2 linked regions of the Homo sapiens genome follow. The protein of the gene in region 1 binds, or shares a complex with, the protein of each later gene. Each region holds a gene or a part of one and is shown in the gene's direction. Other genes may lie near its edges.

Region 1 (9,217 bases):
ACATTATTTTCTTATGATCAATGTGTTCCTGCTTAGTACATCTTTGCTTTAACCAGATTTAAGAAATATGCATAATCTTGGTTATTGTAAGTCTTATTCTTTTTGTTCTTCCTATTCATGCCTCTTCCACTCCACTCTTCTGTGTCAAATTGTGACTTGACAGCCTTTCCTTCTACCGTTTATCTGTAGGATATTGGGAGTGTGTGGCATGCATCCTCATCATCAGGAAACTCTAAAAAAGAACCGAGTGGTGCTAGCCAAACAGCTGTTGTTGAGCGAATTGTTAGAACATCTTCTGGAGAAGGACATCATCACCTTGGAAATGAGGGAGCTCATCCAGGTATCTGGAGGCAAAAGAGAGAAGATAAATTGATCATGGGGTGGGAATAGAGCATGACAAAATATGGAAAGGGTGTCGTATCTTTCTTCCTTTTTTTTTTTTTTTTTTTTGAGACAGAGTCTCTGTCTCCCAGGCTGGAGTACAATGGCGCGATCTTGGCTCACTGCAGCCTCTGCCTCCCAGGTTCAAGTGATTCTCCTGCCTCAGCCTCCCAAGTAGCTGGGACTACAGGCAGGTGCCACCATGCCTGGCTAATTTTTTGGATTTTTAGTAGAGACAGGGTTTCACTGTGTTAGCCAGGAGGGTGTCGATCTCCTGACCTCATGATCCACCTGCCTCGGCCTCCCAAAGTGCTGGGATTACAGGTGTGAGCCACCACACCCAGCTGGATGTTGTACCTTTCTAAAGAAATGGAAATGCCCTTCTACCGTAGAGCATTTGAGAGAAATGATATATAACTCAAGAATAACAGAAAGGACTTCACCCATACATACACTTTTCCTGTAAAAAGAATTCTTGGATGAGGACACTACTAGGAAGCTCATGTGGAGAAATAGAATTATAGCTAGAGAAGTAAATATGATTTCATGTTTTATTCTTGTGTCTTAGGCCAAAGTGGGCAGTTTCAGCCAGAATGTGGAACTCCTCAACTTGCTGCCTAAGAGGGGTCCCCAAGCTTTTGATGCCTTCTGTGAAGCACTGAGGGAGACCAAGCAAGGCCACCTGGAGGATATGTTGCTCACCACCCTTTCTGGGCTTCAGCATGTACTCCCACCGGTATGAAGCTTTAGTAATATGGGGTGTTGGGAAGGGTTAGTTTGACTGGAAAGGAATTTGTAAGTCAGAGTGAGGGAGACTAGATTTTGTTGTATTTGGACCGGACCACTTCCCTAAGGTCTGTCATCATGAGTTTTGATTTCTTACAGTTGAGCTGTGACTACGACTTGAGTCTCCCTTTTCCGGTGTGTGAGTCCTGTCCCCTTTACAAGAAGCTCCGCCTGTCGACAGGTGAGAATTGATGGACTAAAAGGGGTCCCAGGCCAGGTGCCACGGCTTACGCCTATAATCCCAGCACTTTGCGGGGCCAAGGCGGGTGGATCACCTGAGGTCAGGAGTTCGAGACCAGCCTGGCCAACATGGTGAAACCCCGTCTCTACTAAAAATATAAAAACTAGCTGGGCATGGTGGTGGGTGCCTGTAATCCCAGCTACTCGGGAAGCTGGGGCAGGAGAATTGCTAGAACCCAGGAGACGGAGGTTGCAGTGAGCCAACACGGTGCCACCGCACTCCAGCCTTGCCAACAGAGTGAGACTCAGTCTCAAAAAATAAAATAAAATAAAATAAAAAGGAGGGGGGTGTCCCAGATTGACTTCCCCTTTCTTGTCTGGTATCTGGCTTTGTCCTAACATGAGCCCTTTTTTTTGTTTTTTTTTTTTTTTGTTGTGTTTTTTTTCAGAAATAGGGTCTTGTTCTGTCACCCAGGCTGGAATGCAGTGACACCACCATAGCTCACTGCAGCGTTGAACTCCTGGGTTGAAGGGCTCCTCCTGCCTCAGCCTCCCAAGTACCTGGGATTACAGGTGCATGCCACCACACCTAGCTCATTTTTAAATTTTTTGTAGAGAAGGAGTCTCACTTTGTTACCCAGGCTGGTGTCAAACTTCTGGCCTCAAATGATCCTTCCGCCTTGGCCTCCCAAAGTGCTGGGATTATAGGCGTAAGCCACCATGCCCAGCTGAGACATAGTTTATATTGGGAACAGTTGTCAGTAAATTTGTTAAGGGCTAGTAGGACAGTTTATGCAGGAGTTTGTGGTTTTTTGTTTTTTTTTTTTCTTGTGATGGAGTCTTGCTCTGTCGTCCAGGCTGTAGTGCAATGGTGCAGTCTCGGCTCACTGCAAACTCTGCCTCCTGGGTTCAAGTGATTCTCCTGCCTCAGCCTCCTGAGTAGCTAGGATTACAGGTGCGTGCCACCATACCCAGCTAATTTTTTGTGTTTTTAGTAAGAGATGGGGTTTCACCATCTCCTGACCTCGTGATCTGCCTGCCTCGGCCTCCCAAAGTGTTGGGATTACAGGCATGAGTCACTGCGCCCGGCCCAGGCAAGGTGTTATTAATAGTTGGTCCATTTCCCTTCCACCCCAGATAACAGTTTTTGTGATAATTGGGCCTTTGAGTAGCATGTATGGGCAGGAAGTTCATGCTCAATTGGCCTCTAAAAAGCTGAATAAGAAAAGACTACATTTGGGGCCACCAGCCTGCTGATGGAGCATCCTAGTGATTGGAACGAGGCTTTTATCAGCTAGCCCATTCGGTCATTCAGCCAGTTGAGCATATGCTTCATGCAGGCTATGTGCAGAGAATCCTTTAGTGAGCTAAAACTAAGAGTCTCTGCCCTCATGAAGCTTACAGGTTTGGGTAGTGAGTGAGACCAATATTTATCACAACCCAGTTGCAAGAGATGTCTGAAGTTACAATGACATATTAAGATTGATGGTTAAGTTATATACTAGTTTTTTGGTTTTCTGTCTATACCACAGATACTGTGGAACACTCCCTAGACAATAAAGATGGTCCTGTCTGCCTTCAGGTGAAGCCTTGCACTCCTGAATTTTATCAAACACACTTCCAGCTGGTGAGTTTTTGCATAATGACAAGAGGAAGAGAGTTGGGAAATTAGACACCCTTCCTGGGAACCTGAACTTAGTTTGCATGTACATTTCCTTTCTGCCTTATTAGTCAGAAAGTTGTTACTGGTTAAATGCCTTCTGTGAGCATTTGTCTATTTTTACCTGCTGGAGGTTAAGAAGAAAAATACGATGTCTTTGTTTTCTTGAAATGTCTAATCTAGCCGAGGAATCATCTGTTATCAAGACGCTCATGGTCTAACTGGCCTCTCCTCCACAGGCATATAGGTTGCAGTCTCGGCCTCGTGGCCTAGCACTGGTGTTGAGCAATGTGCACTTCACTGGAGAGAAAGAACTGGAATTTCGCTCTGGAGGGGATGTGGACCACAGTACTCTAGTCACCCTCTTCAAGCTTTTGGGCTATGACGTCCATGTTCTATGTGACCAGACTGCACAGGTACCTGAGGTGGGAAAAATTGACATGTAAATTAGAGGACTGAACAACACTTTGGGACCAGAGACATCGTTTGTTCCTGTGCCTGCTGGGATATGTCTTAAAAGTTGGTTTATTCTACTTACATTTTTACTCACTCTGTTCTGCCTCTCACCTTGCATTCTAGTAAGAAAGAATTAGGGCCGGCCAGCCATTTTAGTGTTGACATCTCAGGTTGTGGTTTCATAAAGTAATAATAGTCCACAGTTGGTGTCTCACTTTTTTTTTTTTTTTTAAAGACAGAGTTTAGCTCTGTCACCCAGGCTGGAGTGCAATGGCACGATCTCGGCTCACTGCAACCTCTGCCTACCAGGTTCAAGCGATTCTCCTGCCTCAGCTTCCTGAGTAGCTGGAACTGCAGGCGCATGCAACCATACCTGGCTTATTGTTGTATTTTTAGTAGAGACGGGGTTTTGCCATGTTGGCCAGGCTGGTCTCAAACTCCTGACCTCAGGTGATCCGTCCCCCTCGGCCTCCCAAAGTGCTGGGATTATAGGCATGAGCTACGGCACCTGGCTGGGAAAGTATTCTTAACATTTGTGTAATCACAAGTCATAGGGTAGATTGTTTGTGGACCAGATTTCTAGAAATTGTAAACATTTTCATTATGGGCTGTTCGTCATTAACCTCAGTTACTGTACTGCACAACTGACTTTGTGACCTTTAGGGTTTCTATTTTGCAATCAATAATGGCCTATTTGTAGATTCATATTCACTCTTTATTTTGATTCCAGAATAGTAGAACTTTCTTCAACTTGCTTTGAGGTTGTCAGTGGTGAAATTAAAATTGCTAGGAGATTCACTTTGATCTGTTGGGATAGAGGATCTTTGTTTTCCATTCAGCATTGTCTGTAGTCTTCATTTCTCTTTCTTAGCTGCCCTCCTTCTGTGAGAGTAATTATGTATTTACTATATTTTTGGCAAGGCCAGTTTCATCCACAGGTACCTGGGTGTTGTCCTTTACATGCTATTTTTGCCAGCTTCCCCCTTGTAGCATATGCAATGTAGTTAAATCCACCCTTGCTTCAAAGCCATGGCAGCAACAGCTGCTTCAGTCATCAAGTATTCAGGTAGTTTATATGCTTTCCTGAGAAGTCTGCTGGGCATAAAGGGGCAAAGGGCAGGGTACCAGCCATAATTCCTACAGAAGGTCACTTAACAAAATGTGCAGTGTGTGTGTTTTCTTAGAGGTTTTGGTCTAGCCATGTCTTTTACTAGAAATCTATTATGTCATGGTTTTTCAAGTTGTATGCAGCTGATAAAGGATCTTACATGTCTAATAGTTAAAGATAAAATACTGAGTCACTAAGTCAACTATATATACTGCTGTTTTCTCAGAGACTGTCAGATTTGGTGAGTTTATGAGCTCACTTCATAAATAGCATTTCCATTTATGGTAAGCCTGATGCATATTCAGTGACCTATTGGATTCTAATTCTTTGGTTGAATTGCTCTGTAACTGGAATTGCAGTAGAGTTGAACTTCAAGCACCTTATAATGGGGGACTATGTGAGCTGCCACAGATTTTAAAGATCAGATGAGGGAGTTTTGACATCAGCATAAAAGGAAGTGTGTCCTCTTATATTCCTAACGACCAAACAAGATTAGAGAAAAAATCTTCTGTCATAGCTAAGAAGAAGAAGCGCCTAGGTAGATATGATCAGAAGGATAAGTGGAGGAGGCAGAACTTAAGCTGGCCTTGAAGGATAGAAGTTACTGAAGCAGAGAGGAGTGGTGAAGCCACCCTAGGCAGGGAGAACAGTATGTGGACAAGAAATGTGTGTGTTATAAACCAGGTAGTTGCAATGGGTGTCATAATTTGGTACACTGGGCATCTGCACAGAATGCTCTCTTCCTGGTGGGATCTCCCTAGAGAGTCAACTCGTTTATCATATAGCTATTTGGCAAGCAAAGAAACAGAACCAAAAAAAAAAAAAAGATCCTTTTTTCTTTCCCTATCAAATCTTTCTTACTTAAGAGAGGAATTCCATTTAAAAACAGGAAATAGTATAATTAGTCTTAGAGACTCCTCTTCCCCTGATAGTGCTGCAGTGAACATGGGTATTCTCACTGCCCAGATGTTTTCACTTTTCTCTTTGTTATTAAGTTTTTATTGCATCTACTTCATGAGGTTACTAGTTCTAGAATTATGATTTACCCTATGTTAGGAAACGTACTCTTCAAAGTGGAAATTTCCTTTTACCATGTGGTATTGTTTTTTTAGCTTGCATTTGGGTCACAAACTGCTTTGAAAATGTAAGGACAAGCTATGGGTTATCCCTGGAAAATGCAGCTGCCCATATAATTTAGCATATAATTTCAGAGGGTTCACAAGTTACTCTCTTCACATGTCCCCCAACCCCTAGCCAAAAATACACTTAGGAGTTAAGAACCCTGCTATTTATAGAAGTACTGTAATTTTATCAAAAACAAATCTGCAGATCCTATTTTAAGCTATGCTACTTGTAGAAAAATTCCTCCAAATGTCTAATCCCCATTTATTGAATGGTTTAGTCTTACTAAGTTTGGTTACAAAGTGCGTGTATTCTTTTTTTGGACATTGTTTTCTATTTACTGACCTAATCTCACTAAATTCAAAATGCTCGTGATTCGGTGCCCAGGTATATAATTTTTGTTTTCTTTTTTTTTATTTTGAGATGGAGTTTCACTTTTGTTGCCCAGGCTAGAGTGCAATGGCGCGATCTGGGCTCATTGCAACCTCTGCCTCCCAGGTTCAAGCAATTCTCCTGTCTCAGCCTCCTGAGTAGCTGGGATTACAGGCGCATGCCACCACGCCCGGCTAATTTTTGTATTTTTAGTAGAGACAGGGTTTCATCACATTGGTCAGGCTGGTCTCAAACTCCTGACCTCAGGTGATCCACCCGCCTCGGCCTCCCGAAGTGCTGGGATTACAGGCGTGAGCCACCGCGCCCGGCCTTTGTTTTCTTCTTTGAGCAAAATTAACTTCTTTAACTATTAAATGTTAAATTCTATTAGCATCAGCTCCAGAGGAACATTCACAGTTATGTATTCTCTTGAAATTATATATTCTTGAAAGAATTTTTTGATTATCTGTCATTACCTTAAGATTTCTATTATTATGGTTTGCTTCTACTTAGAAAATACAGATACTTTTCAACAACACCAGTCTCTTTATTTCTAGTTATATTGCAGACTTTCAAATATTTTATGTAATTGCATCTCAATTATCTACAAACAGAAGTATTCCGAACAGATCAATTAGTAGCTCTCAAACTTTAACATATCACAGTGTCCTGGAGGGCTTGTTAAAACACATTTTGCTGGAGCCCAAGATTTCACGTTTCTTCCAAGTTCCTGGGTGATGCTGCTGTTGCTGCTTTAGGGGCCACTCTGAGAACTACTGCAATATGTTATATTATAGAAGTGTGCTTTTTATTTTGGCAGTGTGTGTGATTAAATATATGTGTGTTTTAACTCTTCCACCCAGATAACTTACTTATTTTCATTACATTTTATTCAAGTTTATAATAAAATGAACTTGTTTTCTTTCTGCCCATCTCAGAAGACCCAGACATCGTGAATTATAGAGGGAGGCATAGGTTTAAACATGTGTGCCCAATTATTATGCTCTTTAGGTACACAGTATAACCTTCTGATGGATGGACCAAATGCTTAAGGTAGTGCTCTTCATGTATCGCAACTTAGTGCAAGATAAACAAGATTCTCCAGGCATGGTGGCACATGCCTATGGTCCCAGCTACTCTAGAGGCTGAGGCAAGAAGATTCCTTGAGCCCAGGAGTTCTAGGCTGTAGTGTGCTATGCTGATCAGGTGTCCAAACTAAGTTCATCATCAATATGGTAACCTCCTGGGAGTGGCGGACCACCAGGTTGCCTAAGGAGGGGTGTACCAGCCCAGGTCAGAAATGGAGCAGGTGAAAACTCCTGTGCTGATCAGTAGTGATCTTACACCTGTAAATAGTCACTGCACTCAAGCCTGGGCAATATAGCAAGATCCTGTCTAAAAAAAAAAAAGATAAACAGGAAAACAGTTCTTAAGTTGGACTACAACATTGACCAGTAATAGATTTCTTTGAGAAAAATACTCTTTATTCGACATGCACATTGTAATGGCACATTTTTTGCAATGTGTCCCAGACACAGTGATCGGTTTTTGGTTTTTTTTTTGAGACAGGGTCTCTCTCTGTCACCCAGGCTACAGTGCAGTGGTGCAGTCACAGCTCACTGCAGCCTCAACTTCCTAGGCTCCAGTGATCCCTCCACCGTAGCCTTTAGAGTAGCTGGGACTATAAGCATGCACCACCATGCCTGGCTAATTTTTTTTTTTAAAGATGGAGTCTTGCTAGGTTGTCCAGGCCAAGTCCTTTGTCATAATATCTCATTTTTATCTTCACAAACTTAGAGAAAATATCCTCATAATTTTTTTTTATAAAGTGAAAAGTGAGGTCTCAAGGGTCTGAGTAAGCTGTTCCAACTCATGAAGCCAAGGTTCAAACCTAGATTAATCTGAACCCAGGACCTGTGTATGTAATTACTGCCCTGTACAGAATCCTCCTTCATAGCGTGCTCTTTCTGAAACAAAGCATTTTATACAGTCATCATCATTATCTCTTGGACACTTAGAATCTTAGAAGACAACATACAAGTATTGCTATTCTCTACTATCATGATGCTGTCACAGAACAGTTTATTTTCGTGTAGCTGAATGTGCATGTTACTTATTCATAGCTACACTTTGAGTCACCCTTGTGCCATTTATATACAAGGGCAGTTGCTCTAATGAAGGATCTGGTTATGAACAGGGAATTAATCAGAGTTGACCAGCTCATGATTAGCTTCTTTAGTAACTTGCTTTAATCCAGGAGCTGTTTGCCTATCTCAGTGAGTCTGAATCTGTATTCAGAATATTGTGTCTGAACTCATATGCATTTTTCTGGTGAGTCCATAGCTTTCTTTAGTCTCTCAAAAGGTCTCTTCTTTTATCATTGACCACAGGAATATACATAAAGCGTTTTATCTTCTAATAGCTTAGGGTTTCAAAAAGAAACCAAACTTTGATGCTTATGTTGGTGCTGACCTTAGTGCACAACACTAAACATTCCTTTCTTTTAGGAAATGCAAGAGAAACTGCAGAATTTTGCACAGTTACCTGCACACCGAGTCACGGACTCCTGCATCGTGGCACTCCTCTCGCATGGTGTGGAGGGCGCCATCTATGGTGTGGATGGGAAACTGCTCCAGGTGCGGATACCCTGGTGGAAGCCAACTGTTGAAACCAGGCTGCTTTACCTCCTGCCTGCTGTCTGTCAAGTGATGGCTACTGTTGCATGTGTAGGACTTAGGAGGCCCCGCTGAATGCTTAACCTCTCTTCTTCCTTCTTTCTTTCTGGCAGCTCCAAGAGGTTTTTCAGCTCTTTGACAACGCCAACTGCCCAAGCCTACAGAACAAACCAAAAATGTTCTTCATCCAGGCCTGCCGTGGAGGTGAGTGCCCTAGCAGACCAGCACCTGGGTGGTGGCTCCTGGGCAGCCTCCCACCAGCTCTCACTTTCCTGTTTGCTCCTCTCAGGTGCTATTGGATCCCTTGGGCACCTCCTTCTGTTCACTGCTGCCACCGCCTCTCTTGCTCTGTAAGTGTCTCCCAATGCATGGGGTGTGCTGGGACTTGGGCAGCCCATGGCTCTCAGGCTGGTCAGCTCTCCGTGCACCACCATATCCTGTTTTCAGGTCTCTTATCCCGTGTCTTTGCCTTCCTTT
Region 2 (9,217 bases), about 67 Mb from region 1:
AAGATTAAAAATGCAAAGTTGCATTCATAACTTTTTTTTGGGGGGTGTGGTGGGGGTGCGGACAGATCGCTCTGTTGCCCAGGCTGGAGTGCAGTGGCTCCATCTCGTCTCACTGTAACCTCCACCTCTCAGGTTCAGGTGATTCCCCTGCCTCAGCCTCCTGAGTAGCTGGGATTACAGGCATGCACACCACACCCAGCTCATTTTTGTATTTTTAGTAGAGACAGGGTTTCGCCATGTTGGCCAGGCTGGTCTCAAACTACTGACCTCAAGTGATCCACCCACCTTGGCCTCCCAAAGTGCTGGGATTACAGAGGTGAGCGGCTGTGTCTGGTCCCTACCATTACAATGTAAGGTTCTTGGTAGATAAGGAAATTGTGAATGACCTGGTACTCCATGGCTTAAGGTCAGAAAGTCATCTAAGTAGCTTTCCAAGAATTTCAAGAGTTGCTAATCTTAGGTAGAAAAGGTTTCTCTCCTCATCAACTCTTAGGGGAAAATAGTTGACACTAATTAACATCTGATTCCTTAGCAGCTGGGATTTGGGGAGTTCTACTTTTTAAACTGTTGGTGAGAATAACATAGATTTTTCTAACCATTTTACCTACAGCTATCTTTAACATCTTTTAAGTCACCAAAAGAAATTTGAGGCCGGGCGCGGTGGCTCACGCCTGTAATCCCAGCACTTTGGGAGGCCGAGGCGGGCGGATCACAAGGTCAGGAGATCAAGACCATCCTGGCCAACATGATGAAACCCCGTCTCTATTAAAAGTACAAAAATTAGCTGGGCGTAGTGGCACACGCCTGTAATCCCAGGTACTCGGGAGGCTGAGGCAGGAGAATCGCTTGAACCCAGGAGGCAGAGGTTGCAGTGAGCCGGGATTGTGCCACTGCACTCCAGCCTGGTGACAGAGTGGGACTCCATCTCAAAAAAAATAAATAAAATAAAAATAAGAAATTTGAACTTGAGCTTGTAGTAGTAGAGAAGGCAGAAACTTTGTTTTTAAGCAGAACATACAACTCTGGGGAATAAAAACTGAAACTTTCTACATTTTCCAACAGCCATGACAGTAAATTTTGGGGACCATGTTTACAAGTGTTGCATTCGTAGAAACAATTTATTAACCAGGGTGTGATGGGAGGCTGAGGTGGGAGGATCACCTGAGCCTGAGAAGTTGAGGCTGCAGTGAGCTGTGATCACGCCATTTCTCTCCAGCCTGGGCAACAGAGTGAGACCCCATTTCTTTTCTTTTCTTTCTTTCTTTCTTTTTTTTTTTAAAGAAGAAGAAGGTTAGGCAGAATGGCTCATGTTTGTAATCCCAGAACTTTAGGAGGCCAAGGCTGGAGGATCACTTGTGCTCAGGAGTTCGAAACCAGCCTGGACAACATAGGGTGACCCTGGTCCCTACAAAAAATACAAAAATTAGGGGGCGTGGTGGTAGATGCCTGTAGTCCCAGCTTCTCTGGAGGCTGAGGCAGAGGAGTTTGTGGCGTGGCTGCAGTGAGCTGTGATTGCACCACTGTACTCCAGCCAGGGCAACAGAGTGAGACCCTGTCTCTGTTTAAACAACAACAACAAATTTAATGACTGTTTTGAAAAATGTTACCTCCCTTCCCAAATGATACAAGATCCCGTATCTTCCCACATTGAATAGTCATTCTGTCATTCTGTCTTGATTAAATCATTTTAGACACTATTAGAATAACTTGTTCTTTTAAGAGGTTATCTGTTGACCTTTAAAACTAATATGGTGGGGATCTCTTATTTTAATTTAAAAATAACAGATTCTTATGCAAGTAATTATGATCTAAAGGATAAAGGATTTTTAAAAATTTTGATTTAAGGTGTTCAGAACAACTTTTCTTTAGACTTTTTAGAGCTGAAGGGTTTCCCCTCTAACTTAGTTTTTCACTGGCAGGGAACATCTGGGCGTGTTCCAAATGTGGTCGAGCTACTGTATCCAAAGGTGATCCTGGCATTTCATAATCTCCTTGTTCCAATGTGTCTGGGGACAGCTAGGCAGACTTTACATAAGTACAGATTGCCTCTCTGGGCACTGCTGGGAGACTTCATTTGTGGCAGGAGGAGTGCCCCCAGGACTGGTGAGATAATTTGAGCTTTAAATAGCTCCTGGCCCTTGAAATAAGGACAACATGATTTAGGGGAAAGGCCAGAACTTGATCTTTGTGGCCTTCGGCACGCTGGCCTCTCCTTGCACTGGAGGCAGTCATGAGGGCTGCACCGCGGGGCGGTTTGTCTTCAGCATTCGCACACTCAGTAAAGTATGCCAGAGATGGGTGGCAGCAGCGCCCAAGGGCTCAGCTCCTTCCAAAGCCAAGTCTGGGCAGTTTTTTTTCAGGCTGTATGGAACTAGGGTTTATGGAAAGGAAGCGATGTGAGGCAGCTAAGGCAGTTTCCGCTTAATATAGAGAAGAGGATGAAACGGAGAAGAGACACTCGATACAGGAAGATGAGCTGGGAGATCGTTAGGAAATGTAGACATCCCCTGTGGTGAGAACTAAAATGAAGGAAAATTATTCAGGGTATTCTTAAAAGTAGTTCCTCATGTTTCTGTAGCATTTTACTTTTTCAAGAAGACTTTGCTGGGCACAATGGCTGTCACCTGTAATCCCAGCACTCTGAGCGGCCAAGGTGGGAGGATCACTTGAACTAAGGGTTCAAGACCAGCCTGGGCAACATAGTGAGACCTTGTCTCTACTAAAAATTTTTAAATGGCTGGATGCAGTGGCTCACACCTGTAATCCTAACACTTTGGGAGGCTAAGGTGGGTGGATCACTTGAGGCCAGGAGTTCAAGGCCAGCCTGGGCAACATGGCAAGACCTTGTCTCTACAGAAAAATACAAAAATTAGCTGGGTGTGGTGGCATGTGCCTTAGTCCCAGCCACTCAGGAGGCTAAGGTAGGATTGCTTGAAGCCCTGGGAGGCTGAGGTTGCAGTGAGCCAAGATAGTGCCACTGCACTTCCAGCGGATTGATATAGTGAGACCCCATCTCTAAATAAAGAAATAAATAAATCAGCCATAGACTGAGGCGGGTGGATCACTTGAGGCCAGGAGTTTGAGACCATCCTGGCCAACATGGCAAAACGCTGTCTCTACTAAAAATACAAAAACTAGCCAGGCATGGTGGCACACGCCTGTAATCCCAGCTACTCGGGAGGCTGAGGCAGGAGAATCGCTTGAACTTGGGGGGAGGTTGCAGTGAGCCGACATCATGCCATTGCACTCCAGCCTGGGCAACAGAGTGAGACCAGGTCTTTTTGAAACTCTGTCTCCAAAAAAAAAAAAAAAAGAAATCAGCCATGCATGGTGGTGCACACCTGTAGTCCCAGGTACTCTGGAGATTGAGGTGGGAGGATTGCTTGAGCCCAGTAGTTTGAGGCTGCAGTGAGGTGTGATCATGCCTCTGCACTTCAGCTTGGGAAACAGAGTAAGACCATGTCTCAAAAAGAACAAAAAAAGACTTTCTTATTTGTCTGATATACCTGTATATTACCTTATGAAAGAAGCAGAAATCCCCATTTTGCAGATAAGAAAACCAAAGCCCAGAGAAATGAAGCGGCTTGTCCCCAAGATTGCTTAGCGAATGATGGAGCTGGGAAAAGCCCAATCTTCCGTTATTTGTGGACACATCAGAATTCAGCATGAGTGACAGCGGTCTGCTGGATGACAGATCGTCAGTGCAGAATGAGACACGAGGTGCCTGTGTTTATTCATGCAGGAGGAGTGTTTGCAGAAGTGCCGGGAACAAGAGGTGGTGGAGCAAAGCATCTCTTTCCTGGTTTCCTTCTGCTCTGAACTCAAGTAGTACCCACCCCCTATTCTTCCCCTCTTTTGAGTCTGTTTCACTGAGGGCACGGCTGGTAGGAGTAACGTTGTCCAGCATTAAAACAGAGCATCAGTAATGTCTAGGAAAATGTTAACTTTAACAACACCACTAATCAGTTTAGAGAATATTTGAGCGTGTAGCACTTGCTGATCATTCATTCAGAAAATGAATTGCCTGCCATAAACTAATAAGCATGATTTGGTTTATGTTTTGATTTAATTATCTCTGAGTAGATGCTGCTTGAAGTAATGACTGTAATCACTTTTGCCAAGCATACCCCCCGTTTATAATTTAAGAAAAAAAATTTTTTTTTTTTTGAGATGGGGCCTTGTTATGTTGGCCAGGCTGGTCTTGAACTCCTGGCCTCAAGCAGTCCTCCCCACCTGGTGTCTCAAAGCACTGGGATTACAGGCATGGGCCAACATACTGAACATAATGATTCAAACATAGAAAAAAAAGTCTCCTGGTAGTTCAGTTCCCCCATGCCCCAGGAGTTTAGTACAGGGGTGTCCAGTCTTTTGGCTTCCCTGGGCCACATTCCCTTGGGCCACACATAAAATACACTAACACTAACAATAGTTGATGAGCTAAAAAAAAAAAAAAAATCGCAAAAAGAATTCTCAGTGTTTTAATAGAGTTTACGAATTTGTGTTGGGCTGCATTCAAAGCCATCCTGGGCTACATGCAGCCTGTGGGCCACAGGTTGGATAAGCTTGGTTTAGTAGATCTTTTTGGATTCTAGGTCCCTACCTGTCGTCTCTGTATGTAATATAATGTTATACAGATGCTGCAGTTGATCAACACGGAACAATGGGGACTCAAGGGACAGGGAGTAACCACTTTTCTTCTCTCCTCTCCTCTCCTCTCCCCATCCCCAGCCAGTTGGCATGTGCTGGTAGTCCCAGCTCCTCGGTAGGCAGAGGTGGGAGAATCATCTGAGCCTGGGGAGGTTGAGGCTGCAGTGATCTGTGATCCTGCTGCTGCACTCCAGGCTGGGCAATAGAATGAGACCCTGTGTCAAATATAATAATAATAATAATGTATTTCATATGGTTGTCAAGTAATGTAATAGTATATGACTCTGATACTATAGAAACCAGGTAAATAAATTTAGTATTATTGGCTGATATTAATAAGCAGTTATTTGTAGTCATAAAAATATACAACATTGGTTTGAGATGCCACTTTAGTCTTCTGAAAGTGATTAGCCTTGGGGGTGATGAGGGCGGGAGCCTTGAGAAATGGCCATCTTGGGAGAAGCATTGATTCCTGTTGCCCAGCTAGAGGCGCTGTGCTCGCCTCGTTCTTTTGTATTGCTGGTTGTAAAGTTGTATTCAGTCAGACACTCCCACTGCCACAAATAACATGTTCCCTGGGTTGCTAAAGTATCACAGCGATCAGACTCAATCCTATGCCCCTTATTTGGACTCCCTGAGGTTTAGAATTCACATGGTGTTGGCATATGAGCAGAAAGGCCTCCATGTTTCTCAGAAGTCAGCTTGAAGTTGACTCAGTATTTTCTTATCCAGAAGAGATGGGACTGAAGTTTAGTAGACAGGGCAGGATTAGGAGGAATTTGTCAGTCCGTTTTCCTAAAAAACCACTGAGTTAGACCATCTGTACTCATAGTCTCTCATCTAAGGCCTAGACTTGACAGTGTTTTGTGGAACACACGTGATAAGCCTGTGTCCTTTTCTGGGGAGGAAGCCAGGGTTCAGACACCGTTGATCCATTGATCCAGCCGCACTTTTCCCTCCCTTGTGTGTGCTCCACCTCCAGCCCCCTTCCCCCAGCCCACACAAAGTAATTTCCTTCTGTTCATCATGTTACTCAACAGAGCTCTGTTCTAGTGTCTCAAAGATACAGTTAACCCAGTGGACACCATCTGTACCATAACAACTCTGTTCTTTCCTCCTGGCAGGTGACAGAGCTGAATGAGCCACTGTCGAATGAGGAACGAAACCTTCTGTCTGTGGCCTACAAGAACGTTGTGGGGGCACGCCGCTCTTCCTGGAGGGTCATCAGTAGCATTGAGCAGAAGACATCTGCAGACGGCAATGAGAAGAAGATTGAGATGGTCCGTGCGTACCGGGAGAAGATAGAGAAGGAGTTGGAGGCTGTGTGCCAGGATGTGCTGAGCCTGCTGGATAACTACCTGATCAAGAATTGCAGCGAGACCCAGTACGAGAGCAAAGTGTTCTACCTGAAGATGAAAGGGGACTACTACCGCTACCTGGCTGAAGTGGCCACCGGAGAGAAAAGGGCGACGGTGGTGGAGTCCTCCGAGAAGGCCTACAGCGAAGCCCACGAGATCAGCAAAGAGCACATGCAGCCCACCCACCCCATCCGATTAGGCCTGGCTCTTAACTACTCCGTCTTCTACTATGAGATCCAGAACGCCCCAGAGCAAGCGTGCCACTTGGCCAAGACCGCGTTCGACGACGCCATCGCCGAGCTTGACACCCTCAACGAGGACTCCTACAAGGACTCCACGCTCATCATGCAGCTCCTCCGCGACAACCTCACGCTCTGGACGAGCGACCAGCAGGACGACGATGGCGGCGAAGGCAACAATTAAGGCCCCAGGGGAACTGGCAGCGCACGCGGATGCTACTACTGCAGTCTTTATTTTTTTCCCATGAGTTGGGGGTCGGGTGGGGGAGGGAAAGGGAGGGATGACCTTCCCAGGGAGAAACCCACGACCTGTCCTGTCTTTGATCGCCTCTTTGACATTTTTGCCAAAATACCACTAGTGGAAAGTCAGGCTAGCTGTGCTGGTATTGGAATAGCAGCCTCACACTGGCGTCTGGACTGTTCTGTAGATTCATGCAAGTGGAGCTGTCTGTCTCTAATTTAACTTATTGCTAGATAATAGGGTTTTCAGATGAAAAGAAAACTTAAAGAGGAATGGCCCTCATTCAGTAAGTTCTGTGGTTCCAGTAAGGATTTTTATGTACATACGCTCTCGTCTCTCGTTTTGGGTACTTTCTATCTCATCTGTCTCGGCTCTGCATGTTTTCCAGGGTGTAGCCTACAGACATGGAACAGTGTAAATCCCAGACTGACAGACTTAGAACCTGAGGTCTCATTCATCCTTATGGTTTAGGCCTTGCCAGTTTTCCGAAGTCTCTGATTAGTTGACAGTATTAACACTAAATTGCAGTTTACAGTATTTCTACATTACAGCCATATGTAACATCAAGCCATCGATTGTGTACTTTTCCTTTGCTAGTTGTTTGGGCTTTAACATCCTTATTCAGCCTTATCCAGGTTGGTTTTGCTGTTGATCGGTCTCCTAGGCTAAATGAGAATGAAAGCGACTTCAGGTCAGGTGGCTGTGGGATTTTTTTTTTTTGGTCCTTCTTTCCTCTTAACGTAAATCCACCACCAAAATTATTAATCCTCTTGAGAGAAACGTGAAACGCCACAAAAATAGAGAAAATTCAGGTCTGTATGTCATGGATCGTGTTGGTATTTTCAGAGAACATCCCGCTTCTGAAGCTGCTGCAGCTCCCTCCTCAGGGATCACACTGCCGTCACCCACTCTGCACTGGGGCGTTTCCTACTGCGCCTCGTGCTGGCGGACGCAGCTGGGTGCAGAAGCTGTGGGGTCGGAGAGGCGTTTGGAGAAGGTCTGTGGTGCAGTGTGTGAAAATTCAGGTGCTAGAAGCCTACTGGTAGAAAAACCCAAAAGGAAGAGCTATATCCTTAACCATTCTGTCCAATTTCGGGAGCCTTGTCAGTGTGTCAGTTTTTCCTCCCCGAAGACACTCCTTCCCCAAGTAATTGTAGGAAGATAAAAAAACTGTTACCAGATAACAAACACTGAACTCCTATTTGACCAGAACTTTTTCCTCTCGAGATAGTTTTTTCTTTTTAATGAAAAAAGCATAGGAATTGGAGATTGGCTTGTCTCACGCAGCCAGTGCACATTTGGAATTGACGGAAACAACGTTGCTATTTCCACCCATTTGTTTTCGGCAGCCTTAAGGCCCTCATTCTCATTTCGGGTGAATCTGTCTATCTGTGAACGTGGCCCGCATGTGCATTCTTTTTTTTATATATATAAAGTCAGTGACGAGGAACTCCCGAGACGTGTAATGACACCACACTTGTTTTCTTTGTTTCTTTGTTTTATTTAGGCAAGAAGAGGTGTGAGTAATTGAGGAAAAACTGACAGATGCTTTTGCTAATACCAAAATTGAGCTTACAATTAGGAACTGAGTATGTGTAACAGGATACAGGTGACAGTGAAGATAGAAGAACCACGATGACCACAGACTCAATGTGCTCTGTAACATCGCACAGTTTACCCAGCATGACTTTCCTTAGGAGGCCCCCTCCTCACGCTAGAGTAAAAGTCCCAGTTAAGTGAAGCCTACCAGAAGAACTAGTAGAAGAAGCTTTGCCGCTTTTGTGCCTCTCACAGGCGCCTAAAGTCATTGCCATGGGAGGAAGACGATTTGGGGGGGGAGGGGGGGGGGGGCAGGGTAGGTGGGGCTTTCCCTAATTTATCTTCATGTCCAGTGAGCAGTGTTGCGTTTTTCCTTGTAGCATTTGGAAATGATTTACTGGAATTACAAAACCTATTTTTCCTTTAAATTTCAGCTTTGGCTCTGGCTGCTTTTTAGAATAATGCAAGATAAAAATCACACCTGAGGGCTGAAAACGGAGAGGGAATGGGAGACTTGATATTTAAGCAGCTTGAATGGTTTTTCTTTTCTTTATTTTTAAAGAAATGCACTTGCCTATGATACTGTCTCTCCAGTGAAATGATTACTCCTCCATTACTCTATTGATACAATATTGTGCATGCTAGTGTTGTATTTCTATACAGTAGCTTGAAATTGATTAACTTATACTGTAGGTGTTATGTATTCCTATGACAAAAAAAATTAAGTCTTCAAATTTTTTAAAGGTTTTTTTTTTTTAATTTAATTTTTCCTTTTGGGGGTAAAGTTTGCTCTACCAAATAGTGATTGTAACAAATTGATCTGTTTTGGATGTTGCTATAGTGACATGCAGTTATATATTTTGTTTTTAAAAGGGGGGGAGCAAAAGAAACACCAGTGTTAGCTTAATCTTAATGTCTGGTGTTTGTCATGGTGAAATTATAACTATTACAGTGTTGGAGAACAACAAATATGTTCTCTGAATGAGCCTTTGTGCTTTTTGTCATGTTATGCAGTGAACTATTTTTAAGGTCTAATCAGTGATTATTTTTCCAGCTCCGTGTTTCTCTAAGGAATTATTTCACACACGGACCATCTTTAGCAGTTTCCTCAGTGATGGAATATCATGAATGTGAGTCATTATGTAGCTGTCGTACATTGAGCAAATAAACTTACAGATCTGACGCCAGTGCTC

The links.
Region 2: the proteins of CASP2 (region 1) and YWHAG are in contact, whole or in part, in a crystal structure (PDB 6S9K), measured with the Homo sapiens proteins. Residues at the interface, in NP_116764.2 of Homo sapiens: Asp137 (codon at 1,282), Leu138 (codon at 1,285), Ser139 (codon at 1,288), Leu140 (codon at 1,291), Pro141 (codon at 1,294), Phe142 (codon at 1,297), Pro143 (codon at 1,300), Val144 (codon at 1,303), Cys145 (codon at 1,306), Glu146 (codon at 1,309), Leu150 (codon at 1,321), Lys152 (codon at 1,327), Lys153 (codon at 1,330), Leu154 (codon at 1,333), Ser157 (codon at 1,342); in NP_036611.2 of Homo sapiens: Glu15, Asn43 (codon at 5,811), Val47 (codon at 5,823), Arg57 (codon at 5,853), Arg61 (codon at 5,865), Lys125 (codon at 6,057), Arg132 (codon at 6,078), Tyr133 (codon at 6,081), Pro170 (codon at 6,192), Gly174 (codon at 6,204), Leu177 (codon at 6,213), Asn178 (codon at 6,216), Val181 (codon at 6,225), Glu185 (codon at 6,237), Glu213 (codon at 6,321), Asp214 (codon at 6,324), Lys217 (codon at 6,333), Asp218 (codon at 6,336), Leu221 (codon at 6,345), Ile222 (codon at 6,348), Leu225 (codon at 6,357), Asn229 (codon at 6,369), Leu232 (codon at 6,378), Trp233 (codon at 6,381).

What each region holds. Positions count from the first base shown.
Region 1 is NC_000007.14:143,291,351-143,300,567, forward strand, and holds part of CASP2 (caspase-2 isoform 1 preproprotein), read left to right. Parts: intron 1-189; coding exon 190-340; intron 341-949; coding exon 950-1,117; intron 1,118-1,266; coding exon 1,267-1,348; intron 1,349-2,879; coding exon 2,880-2,974; intron 2,975-3,246; coding exon 3,247-3,423; intron 3,424-7,166; exon of another isoform or gene 7,167-7,462; intron 7,463-8,572; coding exon 8,573-8,701; intron 8,702-8,853; coding exon 8,854-8,944; intron 8,945-9,029; coding exon of another isoform or gene 9,030-9,090; intron 9,091-9,217. UniProt on the Homo sapiens protein: Is a regulator of the cascade of caspases responsible for apoptosis execution. Might function by either activating some proteins required for cell death or inactivating proteins necessary for cell survival.
Region 2 is NC_000007.14:76,326,788-76,336,004, reverse strand, and holds the end of YWHAG (14-3-3 protein gamma), read left to right. Parts: intron 1-5,771; coding exon 5,772-6,428; 3' UTR 6,429-9,206; downstream 9,207-9,217. UniProt on the Homo sapiens protein: Adapter protein implicated in the regulation of a large spectrum of both general and specialized signaling pathways. Binds to a large number of partners, usually by recognition of a phosphoserine or phosphothreonine motif.